Homo sapiens: one gene and its partners. The protein of the gene in region 2 interacts with the protein of the main gene of each other region in a biochemical or structural test. Each region holds a gene or a part of one and is shown on either strand. Other genes may lie near its edges.

Evidence for each region.
Region 1: of the proteins of PNN (region 2) and CSNK2A1, one has a biochemical effect on the other in vitro, tested with the Homo sapiens proteins (one large-scale study listed by BioGRID and IntAct).
Region 3: the proteins of PNN (region 2) and KRT8 form a complex in vitro, tested with the Homo sapiens proteins (one study listed by BioGRID).
Region 4: the proteins of PNN (region 2) and RNPS1 form a complex in vitro, tested with the Homo sapiens proteins (3 studies listed by BioGRID and IntAct).

Annotation. Positions count from the first base shown.
Region 1 is NC_000020.11:471,998-474,896, reverse strand, and holds the end of CSNK2A1 (casein kinase II subunit alpha), read left to right. Parts: 3' UTR 1-2,399; downstream 2,400-2,899. UniProt on the Homo sapiens protein: Catalytic subunit of a constitutively active serine/threonine-protein kinase complex that phosphorylates a large number of substrates containing acidic residues C-terminal to the phosphorylated serine or threonine.
Region 2 is NC_000014.9:39,178,254-39,180,988, reverse strand, and holds part of PNN (pinin), read right to left. Parts: intron 1,899-2,735; coding exon 1,743-1,898; intron 1,666-1,742; coding exon 1,527-1,665; intron 487-1,526; coding exon 1-486. UniProt on the Homo sapiens protein: Transcriptional activator binding to the E-box 1 core sequence of the E-cadherin promoter gene; the core-binding sequence is 5'CAGGTG-3'. Capable of reversing CTBP1-mediated transcription repression.
Region 3 is NC_000012.12:52,899,382-52,902,076, forward strand, and holds part of KRT8 (keratin, type II cytoskeletal 8), read right to left. Parts: intron 2,692-2,695; coding exon 2,483-2,691; intron 1,839-2,482; coding exon 1,778-1,838; intron 1,303-1,777; coding exon 1,207-1,302; intron 685-1,206; coding exon 394-684; intron 1-393. UniProt on the Homo sapiens protein: Together with KRT19, helps to link the contractile apparatus to dystrophin at the costameres of striated muscle.
Region 4 is NC_000016.10:2,261,627-2,265,128, forward strand, and holds part of RNPS1 (RNA-binding protein with serine-rich domain 1), read right to left. Parts: intron 3,135-3,502; 5' UTR 3,018-3,134; coding exon 2,947-3,017; intron 2,706-2,946; coding exon 2,550-2,705; intron 1,662-2,549; coding exon 1,470-1,661; intron 1,217-1,469; coding exon 1,114-1,216; intron 806-1,113; coding exon 652-805; intron 1-651. UniProt on the Homo sapiens protein: Part of pre- and post-splicing multiprotein mRNP complexes. Auxiliary component of the splicing-dependent multiprotein exon junction complex (EJC) deposited at splice junction on mRNAs.

The DNA of each region.
Region 1 (2,899 bases), on a different chromosome or scaffold from region 2:
ATTAACTCAGCAGGAATGGGAAAAGTTATGAAAGGAGGGAAAACTAAATATCATACTGCTGGTTCAGCTGTGATTAGAATTTACGTAGTCATAATGGAAACACTGAATACTGGTCTAACCAGGATTACAGTATGATGACAATGGAAAGAGGAGTGATGGGAAATGCTGGCATGTGTGGTGGTGTTGGTAACAGGACAAGCGGTCTAAGCTCTAAACTCTCATCATTTATAAGGGGAACTAATGCCTAAAACTGAAAAATCAAACAGTTGCATGTTATTTTGAGATTTTTTAAATTATTGTTAAGATAGTAGCAGTATTTACTTTTAAAACTATATTTATGTATTACTCTGGTGAAAAAGCAACTACTTTTAATAAATGGATATTTATCTTGAATGCATCCACTTCCTCCCATTCCCGTTGCCAAATTCCTCATCCCAGCCACCATCCTCTCTTGCTTGGAGTATCATAGCAGATAACTGGTCTTGATGCCTTCCCATCTCGTCTCAATTCCTGATTCATCTGACACCTGCAACCAAAGATCTTTCAAAAATAAATATTCTAGTCCAGGCACAGTGACTCATATCTATAACCCCAGCATTTTGGGAGGCCAAGGCCCGATGATCACTTGAGGCCTGGGTAACACAGCGAGTCCTCTGTTCTACAAAAAATGAAAACATTAACTAGTGTGGTGGTGTGTGACTATAGTGCTAGCTACTGGGGAGGCTGGGTGGGAGGATACGTTGAGCCCAGGAGTTGGAGGCTGCAGTGAGCTATGATCACATTGCTCTCAGTGAGACCTGGCTGACAGAGTGAGAACCTCTCTCTTAAAAATAATAAATAAATTTTATCTCAGTCCCTTGCTTAAAAGCCTTTCAAAGACTAGATCACTTGCAATGTTGTTGTCTCCTCCCAAGGGAGTCATTCCTCCCTTCCTCTTTGTTGACAGAGCCCCAGTTTGAGGGACAGCGGGATATCCACCATGCTGCTGTGAGACTCGGGCAGTTGTGACTGGTTTAGAAGTGGATACACAGGGAGAGGTCTTCTGGAAAAGGTCTTCTGGAGAGCTGAGATCAGAAGACAATCAACTGGCTTCAAATCTAAGGAGAGACAGGCACAAAATGGAAGAGATGACATGGGCACTGGTTACCTGGTAAACACAAGTGGACACTGGTGAGGGACTGGGTCATGGAGACTGCAGTAGTCTTTACCCTTTTCAGCGTTTTTCACCATGAACCCCACTGGGAGCACACAGAAGATTGGAGAAAGTTTTAATAAAATGTCTCAAGATCTGGAAGAAGACAATGGCAGCTACTGTGAAAGGATCACAGTGCTCCACCCAGACCCTTCCCTGTATCCCCTACCGGACAAAAGCCTTAGTCTGTGGAGGGAAGGACACCAAATCCTGTCACCCCCTTGGATGAAGCTCCCTTGCATCTGGGGGAATGAAACAGGAACAAAACAAAACTTTCCCTGGGCAGGGGCAGGAATACACACTGGGCCCAGAACTGGGGGAGGAACAGGAGCACTAAGGAGGACATAACCCCAAAATCAGAGACACAAAGGGCCTGACAGAGACTGAGACTTGATCAGAACAGAGAATTCCCTCCTCCCCCACCTGCCAATGGTAAGCTGACAAGCCTTGAGTTAGAAGTAAAAATGTTACAGGAGAGAGACAAGAGTATGGGAAGAAGACCCTTTCTGAGGGTCACAAAGGGAGGACCTAAAGCTGAGCAGGGAGCACACATGGAAGGAGAAAATCCCTCTGGCAGGCCAGCCTGCACCCTCAGTCCAAGGTGTCATTGGAGGAACTGGAAGCTGCTGCATTGGGGGTAACCATAGCAACAATAAACCTCAAACCTAGCCCAACTCTTTTTTTTATTTACTTTTTAGAGACAAGGTCTTGCTCTGTTGCCCAGGCTGAAGTGCAGTGGTGTGATCGCAGCTCACTGCAGCCTCAAACTCCTGGGCTCAAGCAATCCTCCTGCTTCAGCCTTTGTAGGAGATTGGTCAGGGTGGTGGGAGAAATTATAGGAAAGACACAAACCTTCTTGGAAGGCCGAGAGGTTTTGCAAAAGCTTCAGAAAGAAATTATGGCTGAAGGCAGCCAAATTCTTATCTGAAGCCTGAGAGCAAAGGGCAGATAACAGGGGAGTTGTATAGGAACTTACCTAGATAAATTTGTTTATTCCTGTGTCCAGAAACCAACCTTTGATCATTCACACACAGGACTGCTGTCTACTTGGGATGTTGACAATGTTTATTGCCCACAAATTGTGTTTGCTCCAAGCCTTTGTCATTAAATTTGTGCTAAATAAATGTGAGGGCCACCAGCTTAAGGGGACTGCTAACTCTCTTCGGCCCCTAGTGCTGGCAGTCCCCTAGCCTGCTCTCTCACTGAATATCTGTGTCTGAGTACTCCTTTCATCTGTCACTCGGCCAAAGTCTGTGGGACAGACTCGGCAGGTGATTCCCTGTGTGAGGAATGCTGCAACAGATCACGACGGAACCCTCGAAAATGAAGGTGAAGAGACTGCGCAGTCAGTAAGTCATTGGTGCCTGTTCAGCATTTCCAAGTTCAAAGGAATTGCTCAAGCTAGGGACGATCATCATGGGATGACAGTTGTCATCATGGGACAACAGTTGTCAGCTCAACAGCAACAGTATATAAAAGTAGTAAAACAAATGCTGAAAGTTAGCAGAGCCTCAGACAGGCTCAATTATGGGACCTAATGCAAACTGTTGTTTCCCATAACCCATGGCTCTCGGAAGAAGGTACACTAGACGTAGAGCTCTGGGAAGAAATTTTAACATCATGAGCAAGGGCAATGGGTCTCAGTAACATCTTTAACGTTATGGGCTTTAGTTAGGACTGCTTTGGTCCCACTCTACACAGAAAAGC
Region 2 (2,735 bases):
GTTCCAATTCTTTGCTAGCTTCATTTTCTGAAGGTTCTACACTTTCAACTCGATTAGTTTCCATTACCTCCTGGTCAGCAATTACATGTTTGACATTCTCAACCATCTCTAGCACATCCATAACTTCTTCAGGCTGACTATCCTGCTGCTTCTCACTTTCCCTTACCTCAGTTTCCTCCTCCATCTTAACCTCCATTTCCTGTTTTTGTTCTTCCTCCTCCTGTTCTTTCTCTGCATCACTATGAACAATCGCTATTTCCTTTTCCTCTTCCTCTCCTGCTTCCTCTATTTCTACATCATTGTGCTGATTACCTGTCTCCTCCAACTCTTCCTCTCGCTGAGCCACCTTACCCTCTTCTTGTTCCGCCTTCTGTTCTTCATTACGCACCACCTGATGCTCTTTTTCCTTCATTGATTGTCTTCTAGGCCTAGCCTCCATTTTATTTATTTGTTCTGCAAATTCGATGCGTCTACCTTCAAATAAAGCTAAAGAATAAAAATTTACATGTGTAAAATTTACCGATTAAGAAAATTCAAAGCCATAATTTTATAACTGGTCACAAATTGTCATTAAGCTTCATCTGAATTTGTTTTTGTAAAGTTATGACAAAAGATTATGGCAATTAAGTAACCACAAACTGACATAAAATTATAAAAGCAAAGATCCATGGGAAATCTACATACTAGAAATTGTGGCAGACAGAACTACACATTTTCTAACTGATGAAGAAAACAGATCAATCTTTATGTCTGATGAAAAATAAAACTTCTGTAAAACAGAACCAGTTTTGGCATAAAATCATATATATTAATTTTTCTGATCCCAAAGAGATAAATCATCATCTTAGCAGTGTCTATCCTTCCATGTGTTTTCCATCTAGAAACTGAGTTGGTTTTCACATTTGTCTTATTAGCATTTTATCAGAACAATAATAGCATGCAAAAAAAAGTAATTTTACACAAATGCTTAAGGAATACAGATGCATAAGCACTGTCTATAACTTTCACATTAAACTCCATCATGATACAAATATTCCTATACTACAAACTCACCAGCATCTCAGAATGTATCTTTTTTTTTTTTTTTGAGATGGAGTCTAGCTCTGTTGCCCAGGCTGGAGTTCAGTGGCGTAATCTCGGCTCACTGCAACTTCTGCCTCCCAGGTTCAAGTGATTCTCCTGCCTCAGCCTGCCAAGTAGCTGGAATTACAGGTGCCCACCACCATGCCCAGCTAATTTTTTTTGTATTTTTAGTAGAGACTAGAGACGGGGTTTCACCATGTTAGCCGGGATGGTCTCGATCTCCTGACCTCATGATCTGCCTGCCTCAGCCTCCCAAAGTGCTGGGATTACAGGCGTGAGCCACCACGCCCGGCCTAGAATATCTTATTATCTTATTTAAAAAAAAAAAGCAAACACAGCAAACCAATCACTGAATCATAATTATTTTAGAAAACAAACGTGTGCATATGAACATATTACCTTACCCACTATGAACAATTCAATGGACCTCTTCGCATACTTACCGTTCATTTTTCTCTGTGACTCTTCTATTAGTTTTTGGGTAGCTGGACACATTCTTCCAGGAATATAAAACAAATGGGGCTTTGTCTTAGTTCTTATATATTTAATTATTTTGGCATTATGTTCATTCCATTCTTCTTGCTAAAGAAAAGGTAAAGGGTCAGTGCTTTTGTAAACACAAAGGATTACCAATCTTAGAATTCCAAATTACCACTCACCAGCTGCGCAAGCTCAACTTTCTGTTCCAAAAGCCGCAGTTCTGTCTGTTTAGCACGCCTCTCTTCAAACAGTTCTCTCCTTTCATTTTCAACCTGCTTTCTCTCTTCTTCTGCCTGAACTTCAAGTTTTTGTTCAATTTCCTGGCGCCGCTTTTGCTAAAAGTTAAGTAGCCTGCTTTAATACTTACGTGTTGAAATAGTTACAACAAAAGGTATATATGATTTCAGTTCAATTATGATAAAAAGTTATTACACATACTAATTACGTGAAACATTAGAGGCAGGTAGATCATCTGAAGTCAGAAGCCAACACCACCATCTCTACTAAAAACACAAAAAAATTAACAGGGCGTGGTTGCACGCACCTATAATCCCAGCTACTTGGGAGGCCGAAGCAGGAGAAATCACTTGAACCCCAGAGGCGGAGGTTGCAGTGAGCTGAGATCACGCCACTACACTCCAGCCTGAGCAAGAAGAGCCAAACTCCATCTCAAAAAAAATTTTTTTTTTTTTTTTTTTTTTCACTATGTAAAGGTATCTGCAGGCCGGGCACAGTGGCTCACACCTGTCATCCCAGCACTCTGGGAGGCTGAGGTGGGTGGATTGCTTTGAGCTCAGACCAGCCTGGGCAACATGATAAAACCCCATCTCTACAAAAAAAAAGAAAAAGAAAAAAAAAAGGTATCTGCATATGCTTCACATTTTTTCTTTTTTTGAGATGGAGTTTTGCGCCTGTTGCCCAGGCTGGGGTACAATAGTGTGATCTTGGCTCATTGCAACCTCACCTCCAGGGTTCAAGTGATTCTCTTGCCTCCGCCTCCCAAATAGCTGGGGATTACAGGCGCATGCCACCACAGGCGGCTAATTTTGTATTTTTAGTAAAGACAGGGTTTCACCATGTTGGCCAGGCTGGTCTCGAAAAACTTCTGACCTCAGGTGATCCACCTGCCTCAGCCTCCCAAAGTGCTGGGATTACAGGCATGAGCCACTGCA
Region 3 (2,695 bases), on a different chromosome or scaffold from region 2:
CTTCCCCTCCACACCCTTCTCACCTGCGACACTGTAAGGTCCCCCTACCCTAACTGGACTAGATCCCTGGGTTCTAGACTTTCCTTAAAGCAGCAGAGCTCAACCTTACCCTGATGCATATGACTGATTAAAGCAGGCTTGGGAGCATGTATCACGAGCCCCAACATACCTGCCCCAGTCCCCTTTCACCTCTGTCCTGGCCCAAGGGACCTTCCCTGCATCCCTTTGCTTCTCAGAAGCAGACTGAGAAGCTGAACTGTGGCTGCCCCTCCAACTCCTGAACCCTGGTCTAGGATTCCTTCCCCGACTCCCAGAAACTTCACTCTTCCTACATTATCTCCTCTCACCAGGATGTGTCCAAGGAACCCCTCCCACCCCCAACCCGGCCCATACCTGGCCTTTGAGGCCCTCAATCTCAGCCTGGAGCCGGCTGATGTTCCGGTTCATCTCAGAGATCTCAGTCTTTGTGCGCCGCAGGTCATCCCCGTGCTTCCCAGCCAGGCTCTGCAGCTCCTCATACTTGATCTGGTACATGCTCTCAGCCTCAGCCCGGCTGCGGTTGGCAATATCCTCGTACTGTGCCTTGACCTCAGCAATGATGCTGTCCATGTCCAGGGAGCGGCTGTTGTCCATGGACAGCACCACAGATGTGTCCGAGATCTGGGACTGCAGCTCCCGGATCTCCTGTGGGGGAAGAGGGCAAGTGGTGAGGCCCTGTCTCTGCACACAGGGAGCCCCCTTTTCCACAACAGCCTTTCTTAGGGTATAAGACAGGGGCAGCAGAGGAGAGGAGCAGGTGGGAGTCAGGGTCAGGGAGAGGGCAAAGTTCCTGAAAAAGGAACTGGGTGCACCAATACTAGGTGCACAGAGGGATCCAATGCAGCTCAAAGATTAGGAACAAGGGCTTTGGGGACAGAGTTGCTGCTGAATCACCACACCCTATGATGACCTTGGATACGTTATTTCACTTCTCTGAGCCCACTTTCTCGTCTGTGAAATGGGGTAATGACTCATCCCTCATGCGAGGGACAGAACATATAGACCCAATAAATACTAGCCGAGCAAATATTGGTGGCTGTAATTAGTCAGCAGTGGGCCTTTGTCTTATTAGTGTGCTGGGGGCTGGGAGGAGCCTCTGGTTGAGTCTCAGGGTGGAGGCGCTGACAAGGCTGGGGGACCCTCACTCTCCTGCGACCAGGAACATACCTCTTCATATAGCTGCCTGAGGAAGTTGATCTCGTCGGTCAGCCCTTCCAGGCGAGACTCCAGCTCTACCTTGTTCATGTAAGCTTCATCCACATCCTGGGGGATGAGGAGAGGGGAGCCTGAGCTGGGTTTCCACACCCAACCCCAACCAAGGGGCTCCCAAGGTCCACCCAATGGCCTGGTCACAGGACTTTCTAGTTGCCCACTTTGTGGATTGATCTTCCAGCCCAGCCTCTGCCCATCACATGTGCATTCTCAGCCCACACACCTTCACCTCTGCTTCCTGCAACACACCCTCTTCCACCTCCTTCTCTAGGGAGCCTTCTAGAGCCAGATCTCCAGTTCTACTGCTCTGTTTTCTGAACCATGTCCCAACACCGATGTCAAGAGTTCTGTCCAAATGCACCTACCACTCCATCCTTGTCTACCTTTCTGTGCACCCAAATGTTTACATAAATGAGTTTGTCCCACTACTTAGGAATATTTAGGGACAAAACCCAGAAAGCTTCTTGGTCTGAGTCTCTGAGCCCCAGCCTCCAGTGTCCAGATAGGAGAAGGGAGACTCCCTCACCTTCTTGATGAGGACAAATTCGTTCTCCATCTCTGTACGCTTATTGATCTCATCCTCATACCTGTGAGGAAAAGACTTACAATTAGAGGATGAAGGCAAAAGGGAGGTTGCCCTTGGTCTTTTGGGAGACAGGGGCGTTGTGAAAATCAGGAAAATTCAGTTCACAGAGATGCAGGATATGAGAAGGCTGGTCCTTCTGCCTTCCCCAGCTGCCCTCTCCACCCTCACCCCTCCCTTAGCCCGTGGGAAGCAGGAAATCTCTCTCCAAATCCATGAATACACATCGGATTGGACACCTTGAGAGTGTTAACAGCAGGGCCTGACATGAGACCTCAGACAGAACTTTCTAGAGTTTGCTAGAGGTCAAGGGTCAAGACTAAAGAGGGGCCAGAATGTTAAGTACAAAAGTGAGGCCCACAGGCTGCCTATCTCTCCCGTCTCAGGTTTACCATGTCAACATTGACACATAATTTGTTCTTCAAATCCAGACAGTTGAGATTGAAAGGGGGTGGGTACTATCAACAATTGTGCTAGGAACCTGGGCATAAACACAGACTGTTCCGAGCAAACCTCATCAGGTGGTCACCCTAATTAGATAGGACTGCACTTCCCACAACAGAGGGCCATGGGGACTTAGTCCCAAGGTCCCAAGGGGTGGAGGAGAGCACGGTGACTTCAGTTGGGTGGAGGGTGGGAGTTGCTCACTTGTTCTTGAAGTCCTCCACCAGCCCCTGCATGTTGCCAAGCTCCGCCTCCAGCTTCAGCTTCTCCTGGCCCAGAGTCTCCAGCTGCCGCCTAAGGTTGTTGATGTAGCTCTCGAACATGTTGTCCATGTTGCTTCGAGCCGTCTTCTGCTGCTGCAGGAGGCTCCACTTGGTCTCCAGCATCTTGTTCTGCTGCTCCAGGAACCGTACCTAT
Region 4 (3,502 bases), on a different chromosome or scaffold from region 2:
AAGCCAAGGCCCTTATACAAAGGCTGGGATATAAGAAAAGCCCACCAAAAGTTTAGCTTAGGCCTTTCCTGGGCCTTAAAACATAAAATAACGAAGAATACGTCAGGACCCATTTAGGATTAAGCCAGTTTTATTGGGAAGAAAACTCCCCAAACTGCTGTGATTTAGCAGAAGGCAAAGCAAGGGTAATTACCCCAGCACTCACAGCCATTTAAATTAAGTCAATTTACTGAGGCTCCAGAGGAAGGTCTTCAAGACTCAATCCTTAGTTAATAGATTAAAAGTCAGTAACTTATGTCTTTACATAAATGTACACATATGTATAGACATATAGCTTAAAAAATATATAAGCTCTGAAAAACTTTGTAATTTTAAGTTGGTCTGGCAATAATTTCCAGGCCTTTTCCCTGCAACTGGTTGCAGAAATAAAAACTCCACCTACTCAGTTAATGTGCATCTTGTTATTGGGCCATGAGAAATAGCAGCCCAAACCTCAGTTTGGTCCAGGAACTGCACCCCAGCCTGGGCAACAAGTGTGAAACTCTGTCTCAAACAAACAAAAAGAAGTGCAGCCCAGTTGGAAATCAGTTTGAAAGCCCCTCGCGGCGGCGGGTCTCTGAGAGGTCAGGGTTATGTGGCAGGGTCACCCACCTCCATCCATGTGCTTCAGCGCCTTCTCGGCTTCATCTGGATTCTCAAACTCTACGTACGCATAGCCTTTGGACAGATGGGGATGCATCCTTTCCACGGGCATGTCAATCATTTTAATTTTCCCATAGGTGGAAAATATCTCCATGATGTGATCCTAGAGGGAAAGAAGGGTCACGCCAACGCCCAGCTACCAGTCAGTCACGTCAGACGCAGAGAGCTCAGCACATCATGACTAAAACCTCGGCAGGGTAAAACATTCCATCTGATGAGTACCAGTGTTGTTCTGGGATAAATCTCCCAGACACATGTATTAATGGTCCACCAAGAGGAACGAATCAATGCTGTACTCAAACCACATGCCACCACCCCAGTCCTCCAAAAGGCTACATTCTAAGTTCATCTGCAGGCACAGGCCTGCTTGTCCACACCCCACTGCCCACAGGAGAGATCCATGATCCTCACCTTTGTCACATTCCGGGTGAGTCTCCCAATGTGCACTTTGGTGGGCTTAGGAGATGGGCTCCGCCTTTTCCTCTCCTTTTCATCTCTTTTAGGTGGTTTGGATCTGATTGAGAAAACAAAACACCAGAAACAATTTCTGTCAAGTCAAAATGTACTAGACGCCTTTCGAGTAAGCTCTTATCTGCTTGTGTGACAGTTTTCATAAGGAAGACTTTCCTGCTAGTTCACATACATTATTCCTGTCTCAGAAATCCTATTAACACAGAAAGACTCCTTTTGGGTCCCTTTTATAACCTCGATGGTAAATCTGTAGCCCCGAGCTTGTAAACTTTAGCTCCCAGGCGCAGGGCACTCACTTGGAGCGGGAGCGCCTCCTGTTGTCGTGTCTGCGCCGAGAAGGACTTGGAGAGCCAGAAGAGCTGCTAGAGCTGGAGCTGCGGGAGGTGCTGGAGCTTCCTGAGCGGCTGGATGCTGAGGAAGAGCTGGAGCCACTGCTTGAGCCAGTGCTGGTGCTGGAGCCTGAGCTGGAAGTCGAGCTGGACCGAGACCTGAGGGCAAGATGAGGGGTCACAACCACCACACACCAAGTCTCACAGTACAGACGCCTCCTCCAATTCTGTTGTGCTCCCCCCAGGAGAAACCTGCTGTTCGGGTGCCTCCAGGCCTCACTGCTTTCAGCAGTGGGGAAAACATCACCCCCCAATCCCCCAGCAAGTCAGAGCCCTAGGTGTCACATTGTGTGTGGGACAGGACAGAGGTGATGGGCTGCCTTCTACCCATACAGAAGCCTTTCCTGCTGGGAGGCAAAGGACTCTGGCAAAAGTCACAACTGCCAACTCAGGCTGGGAAGGCAGCTGCTGGCTGATGCTGACCCAGGCTAGGTTGATTTTTTCTTTTGAGACAGGGTCTGCCACCCAAGCTGGAGTGCAGTGGCATGATCTCCGCACACTGCAGCTTCAACCCCCTGGAATCAAGCCATCCTCCTGACTCAGCCTCCCGAGTAGCTGGGAGTACAGGCGTGTACCACCACACCCGGCTAGTTTTGTTTATTTTCCTCAAACTCCTGGGCTCAAGCCATCCTCTTGCCTCAGCCCTCCCAAGTAGCTGGGACTACAGATGCATGCCACCACGCTCAGCTAATTTTACAAATTACTCTTTTTTTTTTTTTTTTGTAGAGACGAGCTCTTGTTTTGTTGCCCATGCTGGTCTTGAACTCCAGGCCCCAAGCAATCCTCCTGCCTCGGCCTCCCAAAGTGCTGGGATTATAGGCATGAGCCACCACTGCACCTAGCCAGTCTGCCATAAATTAGGGTCTCTACTAACAATCAGAGGATGTGTTTTCTTTGTAAATAATCAAGAAAACCGAGCCATCTGTGGGGAGTGGGGGTGTAGCTGTGGCACAGGTCCTCTCCAGGCTCCAGGCCAGCCCGCCCCACCTGGTACTGCTGCTACCACTGGAAGCGCTGCGCCTCTTTCGGGTTTTGTCCCGGCCGCGATCCTTCTCACTCGACTCCTTGGTGGCCCCTTTATCTTTTGAGCGATCCTTGGACTTCTCATCTGAGCGGTCTTTGCGTTTGGTAGGTGAAGGAGCCCTGGATGGTGAGGAAGAGTGTGAGATTGCGTGCTCCTCTGACCAAACCCAAACAGCACAACCCAAAACGGGGGATCAGCATCAGCAGGGCCACAGAGACCCGAGGTGACCACAGAGCAAAGTGGTCTGTGGCTCAGAACACTCACTGTAGAATGCAGAACATTCTCAACTTTCCCCTTTCTGCGGGTCCCTAGCAGTAAGCACCCCCAAGTAGCACTAGAAAAATCTTACAGAAGGATTACCTAGTGCTGGACTTTTTATTATTTTCTTTGACTCCTAGCAAGCTCTTCTTTTTCACTCCTGATAAATCCATTCTCCCCTTCTGAGGTGTTCAAAGCAGCAATGGCGGCCTCACTTATCTGAACTCTCACTTCTAACTTGATTCTGAGAAACGATCCCTAATCGATTGCAATTTACGCCAAAGAGCAGCCTAATAACAAGATAAAAGGGTTTAAAGAGTGAACGAATTGGCAAGGCAACAAGTCTACTTTGCAGTCAAAAGCTGAGCACACAAAAAGGCAGCAAGGGAGCACGGTAAGCAATAAGTGTCCACACAGTCAGGAACACATAGGGACAGTCCCCATGTGCTCCTGGAGGCGTCTCTACCCCGCAGAGGAGGCACAGGTACAACTGTCGCCCCAGCGTATCTTTTTCTTAAAAAATGGAGATGGTGGAGACCATCACTGTTATTTTACAGGCTGAACAATTCAGTTTTCACCCACAAGTTTGATGAGCCCCTGCAGTCCTTTCAAAATGCCACAGCACCACATTCACATGCAGAACAGAGAAAAACCTAAC